2 separate regions of the Homo sapiens genome follow, and region 1 is linked to region 2. The links come from fine-mapping of genetic effects on gene expression. A gene starts in region 2. The other region holds a variant in brackets. All regions are shown on one strand. Distances are between the middles of the regions.

Region 1 (5,387 bases), 720 kb before region 2:
TTCAGAATAGTGAGATAACTGGTCATTCTTGTGACTTGCACAATGTCCATGTTCTGTCTGTGTTCAGACATGATTGCAGAGCGGTCTTGTTTTCGCCTTCATCCGTCATGGTCACACAGCGGCCTCATTTAATGCTGATGTTCCTGATAGAGTAATACCAAGGCCTAGCTGTGAGTGCCAAGCCAGCTCCTAGCAACAACTGGGCATAGCTTGTGAATGTCAGAAGCTGTTTTTCTCTTTCTCAAAACCAGTTAAACATTTAGTTCAGTGATTTGTCCTGCAGCTGGTGGATGAGATGGAATTTTCAAAAGCGGAAAAAAATAGAACAAGGTATGTTCTTTCTCAAAAGACATGTTTTCCAGCACTATTTCTATACGGCAAATTATTTCTTATACAAAGTTAAAATATAAAGAAGAGATTAGGAGAAAATACTTGTGATATGTATAACAAACAAATGACTATACAAATTTTTTCTATAAATAAAAAATCAAACAACCCAATAGAAAAATATGGCAACAATTCACAGATTAATAACTACAAATAGATAACAAAAGATATTCAACTTTACTATTCGTAAAGTAAATATAAATTAAAACAAAGAAGCAATTTTCTTCCATTGGATTGACAACAAAAATCATGAGGGAATAGGAAATCCTAATACTGTTAGAACAAAGTACAAGTACTTTGCAGGATATTTTGGCAATTTCTAGCAAACTTTAAAATGCTCATTAAATTTTTAAGAATTTTCCTTTTAGAAATGCTACACATGTGCACGAAAACATATGATTCAAAAATGTTCATTGTAACATTTGTTAAACAGAAAAACTGGTGAAAAACATTTGTACATCAATAGAGAAATACCTACATTTAAAAATGATGTATCCATACTATGAAGTTATATGCAGACAATTAAAATATTGACATAGATATGTATGGCAAATATAGAGGAAAAACAAAGATACAGAATTAGACAAGAAAATTAATTTACAAAAGTACTTAATATCTCATTTATGTCAAAATATTTATGTAGGCCAAACGCAGCAGCTCATGCCTGCAATCCCAACGTTTTGGGAGGCTGAGGCAGGAGGATTGCCTGAGTCCAGGAATTCGAGACCAGCCAGGGCAACACAGTGAGAACTCTTCTCTACAAAAAAAAAAAAAAAAAAAAAAAAAAAAAGAGCCAGGTGTGGTGACTCATGCCTGTAGTCCCAGCTACTCAGGAGGCTGAGGTGGGAGAATTGCTTGAGCCTGGGAGGTTGAGGCTGCAGAGAGCTGAGAATATGCCACTGCACTGCAGCCTGGGCGACAGAGCAAGACCCTGTTTAAAAAATATATAATTATGTATTTTTAATATTTGCATATATGTATATGACTATATTATGAATCTTTGTATATATATTTAAATGAATATAAAATTATCTGTAAGTGAGCATACCAATTGCAAGCTGTTTCCTTTGAGGACCAGTAATTCAGTTGAATTTTGGGAGAATAGAGGGTGGAGAGAATGGTAGAAATGCAAGTTTTTCTGTATATACATCTGCACTGCTTGAAATTTTTATAAGAAAATATTATTTTCATAATAAAAAGTTATATAATAATATATTCTTTTTTTTTTTTTTCGAGACGGAGTTTCACTCTTGTTGCCCAGGCTGGAGTGCAATGGCGTGATCTCAGCTCACCACAACCTCTGCCTCCCGAGTTCAAGTGATTCTCCTCCCTCAGCCTCCTGAGTAGCTGGGATTACGGGCATGTGTCACCACGCCCAGCTAATTTTGTATTTTTAGTAGAGACGGGGTTTCTCCATGTTGATCAGGCTGGTCTCGAACTCCTGACCTCAGGCGATCCACCTGCCTTGGCCTCCCAAAGTGCTGGGATTACAGGCATGAGCCACCATGCCCGGCCAATAATGTATTCTCTTAGGAACTGTCTAGCTGAGATGGGGTAACTTGTAATGGAGTTATCTTCCTGGCAGAAACAACTAAAAACACTGGACTATATACATATATATATATATAAATGTTTTTTAAGCGTTAGAAATTAGGTAGTGTGAGAAAATAATTCCTTACAGAGGGAAAACAAAGTGAACCCTTACGATTGTCCTGGCTTACTGTCTGAAAGGAGACTTCAGGCTACATCATAGAAAGGGAGAACTCAGGCCGGCCGCGGTGGCTCACACCTGTAATCCCATAGCATTTTGGGAGGCCAAGGTGGGGGGATCACAAGGTCAGGAGAGCGAGACAATCCTGGCTAACACGGTGAAACCCCGTCTCCCCTAAAAATCCAAAAATTAGCCAGGTGTGGGGGCACACGCCTGTAGTCCCAGCTACTCAGGAGGCTGAGGCAGGAGAATTGCTTGAACCCTGGAGACGGAGGTTGCAGTGAGCTGAGATCTGGCCACTGCACTCCAGCCTGGGCGACAGAGCAAGACTCCATCTCAAAATAAACAAATAAGTAAATAAATAAAATAAAAAGAAACGGAGAACCTAAATGGAATCCAGTGGCCTCCCTAAGTTGAGAAGACAGAGCTAGGAGTCCAAAAAGGGAAATACAGCTACAATTTTCAGGGAAGAATACAAGAGAAAAGAAAGCTGCACAAAAAATAAGATAACTGCAG[C/A]GATTTGTTGAAGGTCCTTCTCAGCTTTAGTTGAGCATGAATCAGTGCATGAATGTGAGGAAACTAACTGAAGCTGGAGAAGCAACTATCTGTAAACAGCAGAAAAAAACAATTCTTAGAGCTCAAACATTTCTTTTTCCCACAAGTCAGAGTGAAAAGCCTTGTATTTCACATGATATTAGGTAGGTTCGTCAGAGGGTATCGCCACAGTAGTGGAAGAAAAATAGTCCTAGATTAATAGCTAGTCTGGTTCTGTCTAATGAAGTTTACAAACAAGCCTTGAAAGAATCAATGTTTTTTTTTTCCAAGTAAATTTAAAGCATCTCAGATTTAAGTGTGAAAATAATATTAGGAGAAGAAAAACACCACCAAAAAGGTAAAATCCACATTGTCTGACATCAAATAAAAAGTTACCAATCACGCATGAAGGAAAGAAAATAAGAGCAGAAAAGCCATTCAATAGAAAGAGACCAGAAAATGGCACCTATAGAATGAGTAGACAAGAACATTAAAACGGCTACAGACGGCTGGGTGCAGTGGCTCATGCCTGTAATCCCAGCACTTTGGGAGGCTGAGGCGGGCAGATCACGAGGTCAGGAGATCGAGACCATCCGGGCTAACACGGTGAAACCCCGTCCCTACTAAAAACACAAAACATTAGCCGGGCGTGGTGGCAGGCGCCTGTAGTCCCAGCTACTCGAGAGGCTGAGGCAGGAGAATCGCTTGAACCCAGGAGGGGGTTTCAGTGAGCCAAGGTAGTGCCACTGCACTCCAGCCTCGGCAACAAAGCAAGACTCCATCTCAAAAAAAAAAAAAAAAAAAGCTACAGGTATTCTAACTATATTATATATGTTCAATAAATAAGAGGAAAGGTTGAACATGTTAAGTAAACATATGAAAGATATAAAACATACCAAAATCAAACTTCTATGGATATAAATTACAGGTCTGAAATGAAAAATAAACTGAATGGGATATATAGCAGATTAGACACTGAGAAGAAAATACCAACACTACAGGTTGAATTTTGTTCCCCCAAATTAATATGTTGAAGTTTCAACCCCCAGTGCTGTAGAATGTCACATTATTTTAATACAAGGTTCTTGTAGAAGTAATGAGCTAAGATGAAGTAATTAGGGCAAGACTTAATCCAATACTACTGGCCTTTTAATAAAAAGGGGAAATTTGGACATAGACCCAGTGAGAATGTCACATAAAAACAAAGGCAGAGATTGGAATGATGCTTCTGAAAGCCAAGAAATGCCAGTGTCCGCCAGAAAATCACTGATTTAGCTAGGCAAGAGACATGGTAGATTCTGAGAGGCCTCCGAAGAAACCGACCCTGTCAACACCTTGATAATAAACTTACAGCCTCCAGAGCTGTGAGCAAATACATGATGTATAAGCCACTCAGTTTGTGGTATTTTATTATGGCCACCTTAGCAAATTAAAGCTACCTGTAACATTGAAAACATTAGAAGAGTAATTTCCACATTAAATGCAAAGAGGAAACATTATTTCAAAACAAAGCTAGAATACCTGTATAATATGATCCGGTAGCTTTCAGAGGCAAGAATATCACATGCAAAATGAGGGACACTGTAAACTGATAAAGGGAGAATTGACCAAGGAAATATAAGAATTTAAATATTTAATATTTAGGTATCCAAAATAACACTGCTTCAAAGTCAACATTGAATAAAATAGCAAAACTTAAAGGAGAAATGGGCAAATTCACAATTATAGTCAAATATGCCAACATTCTTCTTTTAATAAATGATAAAAGATGCAGACAAAAAATCAGTAAAATATACAGACTTGAAAAACAATATCAAACAACTTGACTTAACTGACTTTGGTAGAACACATGACACAACAACAGTAGAATACACAGTGTTTTCAAGCACACACAGAACATTTACCAAGATAAACCAGATAGAGGATCATTAAACAAGTCGAATAAATGTAAAATGATTGAAGCCATACAAAGTACATTCTCTGACCACAATGAAATTGAACTAGGAATTAATATCAGAAAAAAATGTCTAAGAAGTTCCCAAGTAATTTAATACTAAATAGCATAGTTCTGGAGAGGATATGGATCAAGGAAAGAATAAGATACAATTAGAAAATATTTTGAACTAAATGAGAATGAAAAGACAAACTACCAAAATTTGTGGGACCCAGATTTAAAAATATTTGGAGGTAAATTCATAGCACTAAAATTTCTACATCATAAAAGATTGGTCTCGGCCGGGTGTATTGGCTCACACCTGTAATCCCATCACTTTGGGAGGCCAAGGCCAGTGGATCACTTGAGGTCAGCATTTCGAGACCAGCCTAGCCAACATGGTGAAACCCCATCCCTACTAAAAATACAAAAATTAGCCAGGCATGGTGGTGCACGCCTGTAATCCCAGCTACTCGGGAGGCTGGGGCAAGAGAATCGCTTGAATCTAGGAGGCAGAGGTTGCAGTGAATGGAGATCGTGCCACTGCACTCCAGCCTGGGCAACAGAGTGAGACAAAAAAGACTGGTCTCATAACAATGGCCTTAGCTTCTATATTTAGAAAATAAGACAAAAGAGCAAATTAAATCCAAAATAAACAGAATAAAGAAAATAATAAAACTGAAGCAAAAATGAATGAAATAGAAAACAAAAATATACTAAGGAAAATCAATGTAATGAAAAGGTAGTTCATTGAAATGATTAATATAACTGATAAACCTCTAGCCAGATCAATCTGGAAAAAACATACACATTAGGAATGCT
Region 2 (5,387 bases):
AATAGTAAGTTTCTGCTCTGCCATTTACAGATGCTGTAATCTGAATCGATCTTTCAATTTGTTCAAAATTCAGTTTTCTTTTAACTTTGTAAAATAAAAATAACTCTTGTTACTACATGTTGGGACATTTTTAACAGATTAAATGTGATAATATAAATCTGAAGTATTGAGCACTGTACCTGGCATAGAATGAGCTCATTATAATATCAGTCTCCTTATTCTTTCCCTTGTCTAACCATCAGTGGTGAGAAACAGCTGTTGATTTGCCAAAATATATGCATAATTTTATAAATGAAAACATCCAAAATCTCTTTGGGTGGCCTATTAAGGAATGAGCTACAGGGTTTTTCACCTTTATTACTATTGACATTTTGAGACAGATAGTTCTGTGGGCTTTTTTGAGGGGGTGTCATCTTGCTGAATTTAGAATGATTAGCAGCATTCCTAGTTTCTATTCAATAGATGCCGATAGCACCAAGAGCCATCCCAGTTGTGACAACCAAAAATATTTCCAGACTGCAAAATGTCTTCTTGGGATGGGGTGCAAAATCACCCCCAATCTGAGCACTACTGAGCTAGAGGAATGAAAAGGACATTGTGTTGGAAGAGGGTAGGGACTTAAGCTTTGAAATGTTGTTCATAGCTTGGAAGAGGCCCACCTTAGCCGTTTCTGCCATTGGGTGAACTAGGCTTTTTGTGCCTAGGTGTTAGTGAATGGATGTCAGAGCAGAAGGTAGGAGACAGGAGAAGAGTCTTCTCTATTTAGAGGGAATGGAAAAGATGCAGGGCAGTGTCAGAAGGTTTCAGATCTCTCATGAGCAAATGCAAAACTTCTGTGTTCTCAAGACCGGAAACACATTTCTCAGCCAAGGGAAGAGGCTAATTGAGAGGAGTGATCGTGGCTCTTCTTCATTTTCTTAGTAAGCTCCTGAAGGTGGCAAGACCGCAGAAAAGCAATGCATTTAATACCTCAGGGACTTGTTAGTGCCTGAAATTGAACATGGAGGCATTGGGATGATTTCATTGTGCCTCAGAAGTTATTAAACTGAGTCAGGCAAGTCTGCACTCTGGCTCCCCATGTGCAGGTGCAAGCAGTGGCCCCAGTGGGGATCCGAGGGCAGTTCCCTGGCTGGTGGGGTAATGTTCCAGGCAGGAACACAGCTGCCTCTGCTGCACAAAAAATCTGCCTGAAAAGTGGGAGGCAGCAGGTTGTAATAAGCCCCACTCAGCTCCCACACACTTGGCAAGTCAGTTTTCATACCCACAGTGTTCTGCTAGCAGCAGCAGCTAACTGGGTTTCAAGTGGCCCGTGCTCAGAATTTAAAACCATCCCAGGCCATAAGCTTTCCCTATGGACACAGAAACCATATCTTTCAGGCTGCATCCTTTCCAGTCCACCTGTGAAGCAGGGCCATGCAGCTCATGTGCCTTGTTGCCGTAGCACACTTCTCACTTGCCCCTCGGTTCTGGCCAATCAGCTTTGTCCTTACTAAGGATTATATCACAAATCCCAGTTGGGCTCTTCTCTCAAACTGTGACTGCAGCCTGAGTTAGACTTCTGCAACGTCCCGTGAGGTGGGATCAGGAATGGCTTCCCTCCATTCTTGCTGGAATCTGGGTCTGCACACAAAGCATGTCCCGATGCTGCTCCTTCTTATATATTCCTTACTTTTCACTGAATCACCTCTAGAGCTGAGTAGGTTTGAAGTCCTCCCTCATGACTTGTATTGCCTGGCTCGCCTGTGGGAGTATATGTCATGACAGCAATCTATCCCTCTCTCATGCTCTGGGGACTAATGGTTTTCCATCTGTTTTATGATGTAGTCTGTTGCCTGCCACTTCATTCAAAGGGTCTGTGGTTTCTTTCAGTTTTTCTGTTAAGTTCTTACATTGTTTCTTCGAATAAATTTTACAGCATGAATCTCTACATGCCATTTTGTCTTACCAAGTGGGATAAGTATGCTTATAATGCTTCCAATCTGCCATCTTGGAAAAAAAGAAAAAAAAAACTTTAAATATTTTGTCTGTAATGTGCTATGGAAGAGACCTTTTCACATTGTATCTGTTTAGGAATTGATGGGCCTCCTGTATCTCAATGTCTAAGTGTCTTGCTCGACTTAGGAAGTGTCATCTATTATTTCAATAAATAGGTCTTTGAAAACATGTTTTCTCTCTTTGCCTTCTGGGCTATCAGTGATTTTTATATTTGGTCACTTTATGTTGTTAGATAGATTCCAAAGGTTTATTTTATTATTTTCTTTTTTTCTTTATTTTTGTCTGACAGCGTTATTTCAAAAAAAACTGTCTTCAAGCAAAATGTGATCTTAACATAAGTCAGTTATGATTGAGTATATTGTTGAAGCTTTCATGTGTATTTTTTAGTTTATTCACTGCATTCTTTGGCTCCAGAATTTCTGTTCGTTCCTTTTTTATGGTCTCTATCTCTTTGGTAAAGACAGGGTGGCAGTGGCCATGCTGCTGCCCTGCCACTGGGTGTTGGATGCCACCTTCAGTGATGGCAGTCTAGGCCAGTGGGTGAAAAACACATGTGCCACATATGCCTTATCCCCAGTGGTGCTCCCACCTCAGCCCCAGGTGTGGTAGCCCATGAATGCTCATGTCTAAGCCCCAGGTTAACAGCCAGCTCTTCTTTTGCATCTCAGCCTCAGTGTTGCTTGGCTCCAAGACAGTGTGCAGTCTGTTGGGGGTGAGGCTCTAAGATGCTATCTTGCCCAGCCTTGATGTTCATGTCTTTCCCTTGGTTGCAGTAGCCTGTGGTCGCTCATGTCTGAATCTCCAGGGAAACATCAGACATTTAGTTTGCACCTAGGCCTCAATGCCACTGGGCTCCAGGACAGTATGTAGTTCATCGGGGGTGAGGCTCTGCAGTGGTGCCTCATTTGTGCCTCAGTCCTAAAAGCAGCAGCCCACGCCTTCGTCCCACCTCTGCACCAGATGCTGTAGTCTGTAGTCACTGATGCCTATGTCCCTGGGGCAGCAGTTCGTGCTTCTCTTGCACCTCAGCCCTGGGCTACTGGGCTCCAGGACAGTGCTCAGTCTGTTGAGGGCAGGGCTCTAAAATGGTACTTTGTTGTAGCTGCTTAAGTCTCAAGAAGTGTGAGGGACCCAGCGGGAGCTTTCTCCCTGAAGCAGTGCCATCATACAATCTCCTGGCAGCTTTCTATGTTAGTTTCGGGGCCCATGATGGTTGAAGGGATCTCCTGTGGCTGGGATTATAGGAGTCTATAGTGAGAATGTAAACTACTGAGGCTCTCTCACCTATCCTTTCTCTGTATTTGGAGTCTCTCAGCTCACAGCTGATCCTGGATGAGCAGGCTGCCTTGATTCCCTCTCCATCTCTGCTTTAAGTATTGCCTATCACTTTTCTAATGGATTCCAGTGATTTCCTTTGAATTATATATTCAAAGTGTGATTATCGACTCACCGTTTGGTTATTTTTAATGGAGAAAGTGAGTACAAAATGCCTCTAGTCTGCCATATTCATGGTTTCCAAGAAATAATTTTTAAAGGTTTTTAAATATTTTATGTAATTATAATGATTATGGGCATAAGAAGGATTATGGAGAAGAACGGAGCAAAATAAAAGCTTCATTCACTCTGCTGTCATATTTGATTATATCTTGAGGTCAAATTGATCTTTGCTATTGTCTTGGCTGCCGGCTCTGGCTACAGCTAATCCTGGGCAGGCTTTGCAGCTCCTACCACTTCCAGGCCCACAGCTGCAATCCCAAGCTTGCTCACCAAAACAAGTGTTTATTCATTATATCTTCAGTAGATTTTATTTTATAAATATGAATTGTTTATATGCATTTCTAATATGTCAAATGCTTTACTAGCTTTTTAATATCTTTATATCCATTTTCCCTGGATCATTACTTACTGTTCTTAACTCAGTGGTTCTTAACTGGAAGAGATTTTGCCACTTAGGGGATACTTGCCAATATCTAGAAATATTGTTGGTTGTCATAATTGGTGGCAGCAGGGAATGCTACTGGTATTTAATAAGCAGAGACAGAGATGCTTCTAAGCGTCTTATTGGACAAAGGACGACCTCACACAAGAAAGAATTATACTGCCTAAAATGTGATGGTGCTGACAGTGAGAAACCCTGAGTTTAACATAATTTGCTCAGAACTCTAAAAATGATTCACTTTCCAAAAATTTGCTGCATTTTTTCTTCTGGTCAGAATGTGCACAATGGAAATTCTTCCTGAAGGATTTGTGTGAGGAGACCTATTCTATAGCTGTTAAATGATTGGCAGGGAGGTTGATAGATGGAGGTGAAGTCAGCCAAAACTTAACTGATATTTAACAGCCAGGAAATACCCAACCTGGAAAGTATTCATTCATAGCATCACAAACCACTAAAGAAAAGTGATATTTTACCTCTGAGAAAGTTAACAGCAAAAGTATAGTCTTTCTAATTAGTTTTTAGCTTGCAATCTAAATAAATGACAAGTAGAGAATATCAGGTCATAAAATATCATTTAATTTTAAGAAATATTTTCATAAGAATATTGACATAAAAGTGATTTAAGAAAGTGAAAGTTACATTTAGCACAAGATTTTGCATTTTTCAAAAGTATATGATATTGGAAAAACATATAATTACATATTATTTTGAATTTGTTCTATGTAGCAAACTTTGTTCAGACCTCTTTAAGAACATTTCATAAATTTGGCATCATTACTAACATCTCCATGTTAAGAAGATTTTCACAGAAGCAATATTTTCTTGTGTCTCTAAATGGGAGAGAGTGCCTCTCCTCACTAAATTGCCATATTAAAGTGGACTGTTCAGCATTTATTTTCTTCAACCATTCTGTCTAAAATTCAGCCTGATGTATTAGCATTAGCATGAGTCCTCCTGCAAAATTGGTCAGTGGGTAGTTATGCTTTTGTGTGTTTTTCACATCAAAAAAAAAAACCCCACAAGAACAAAAACAAAACAAACACAAAAATGCTCAGTAAATAGTTAATGAATAAATTGTTCTATTCAAGGGGATTGAGAATGGACCTTGCTCCACTGCTTCTTTTTTTTTCTGTATTTTCAACATCTGCCTTTCTACTGGCTAATTAACTATAGTTTATAAATATGTTTAATATTAAATAAAAATTTAAGTAAGAGGAAGCATCAGGAACCACTTTAAAGGTGAATTGTAAAAAATAATGTGATAATAACTTCACTCTGCTTTTCCTTCTCACTTCTTTTCTTCTTTCTTCTTTTCTTTCCACTTAAGCCTCACAAGAGTGAAGCTTCTTGTCTGTCTCTTCTTACTTACCAGTCACTCTTTCTTCAACCTGGTGCTCTCTGACTCCTGTCTCTACCACTCAAATAAAGCTGTACTTTGCAAGACCATCAAAGC

Evidence for each region. PIP is the estimated chance that this variant, and not a neighbour inherited with it, causes the effect. A credible set is the group of variants that fine-mapping cannot tell apart.
Region 1: its variant is the best candidate, but not a certain one, in a credible set for the expression of MAGEC3 in cerebellum (GTEx, PIP 0.58).

The regions. Positions count from the first base shown.
Region 1 is chrX:141,111,270-141,116,656 of GRCh38, forward strand. No RefSeq gene overlaps it. Among named protein-coding and RNA genes, the nearest start is that of LDOC1, 63 kb to the right of the region's middle. The variant C/A (reference allele first, on the strand shown) is at 2,615.
Region 2 is chrX:141,835,844-141,841,230 of GRCh38, forward strand. MAGEC3 (MAGE family member C3) reads left to right here and starts at 2,473. Exons shown (of 8, transcript NM_138702.1): 1 at 2,473-2,595. The coding sequence starts at 2,473.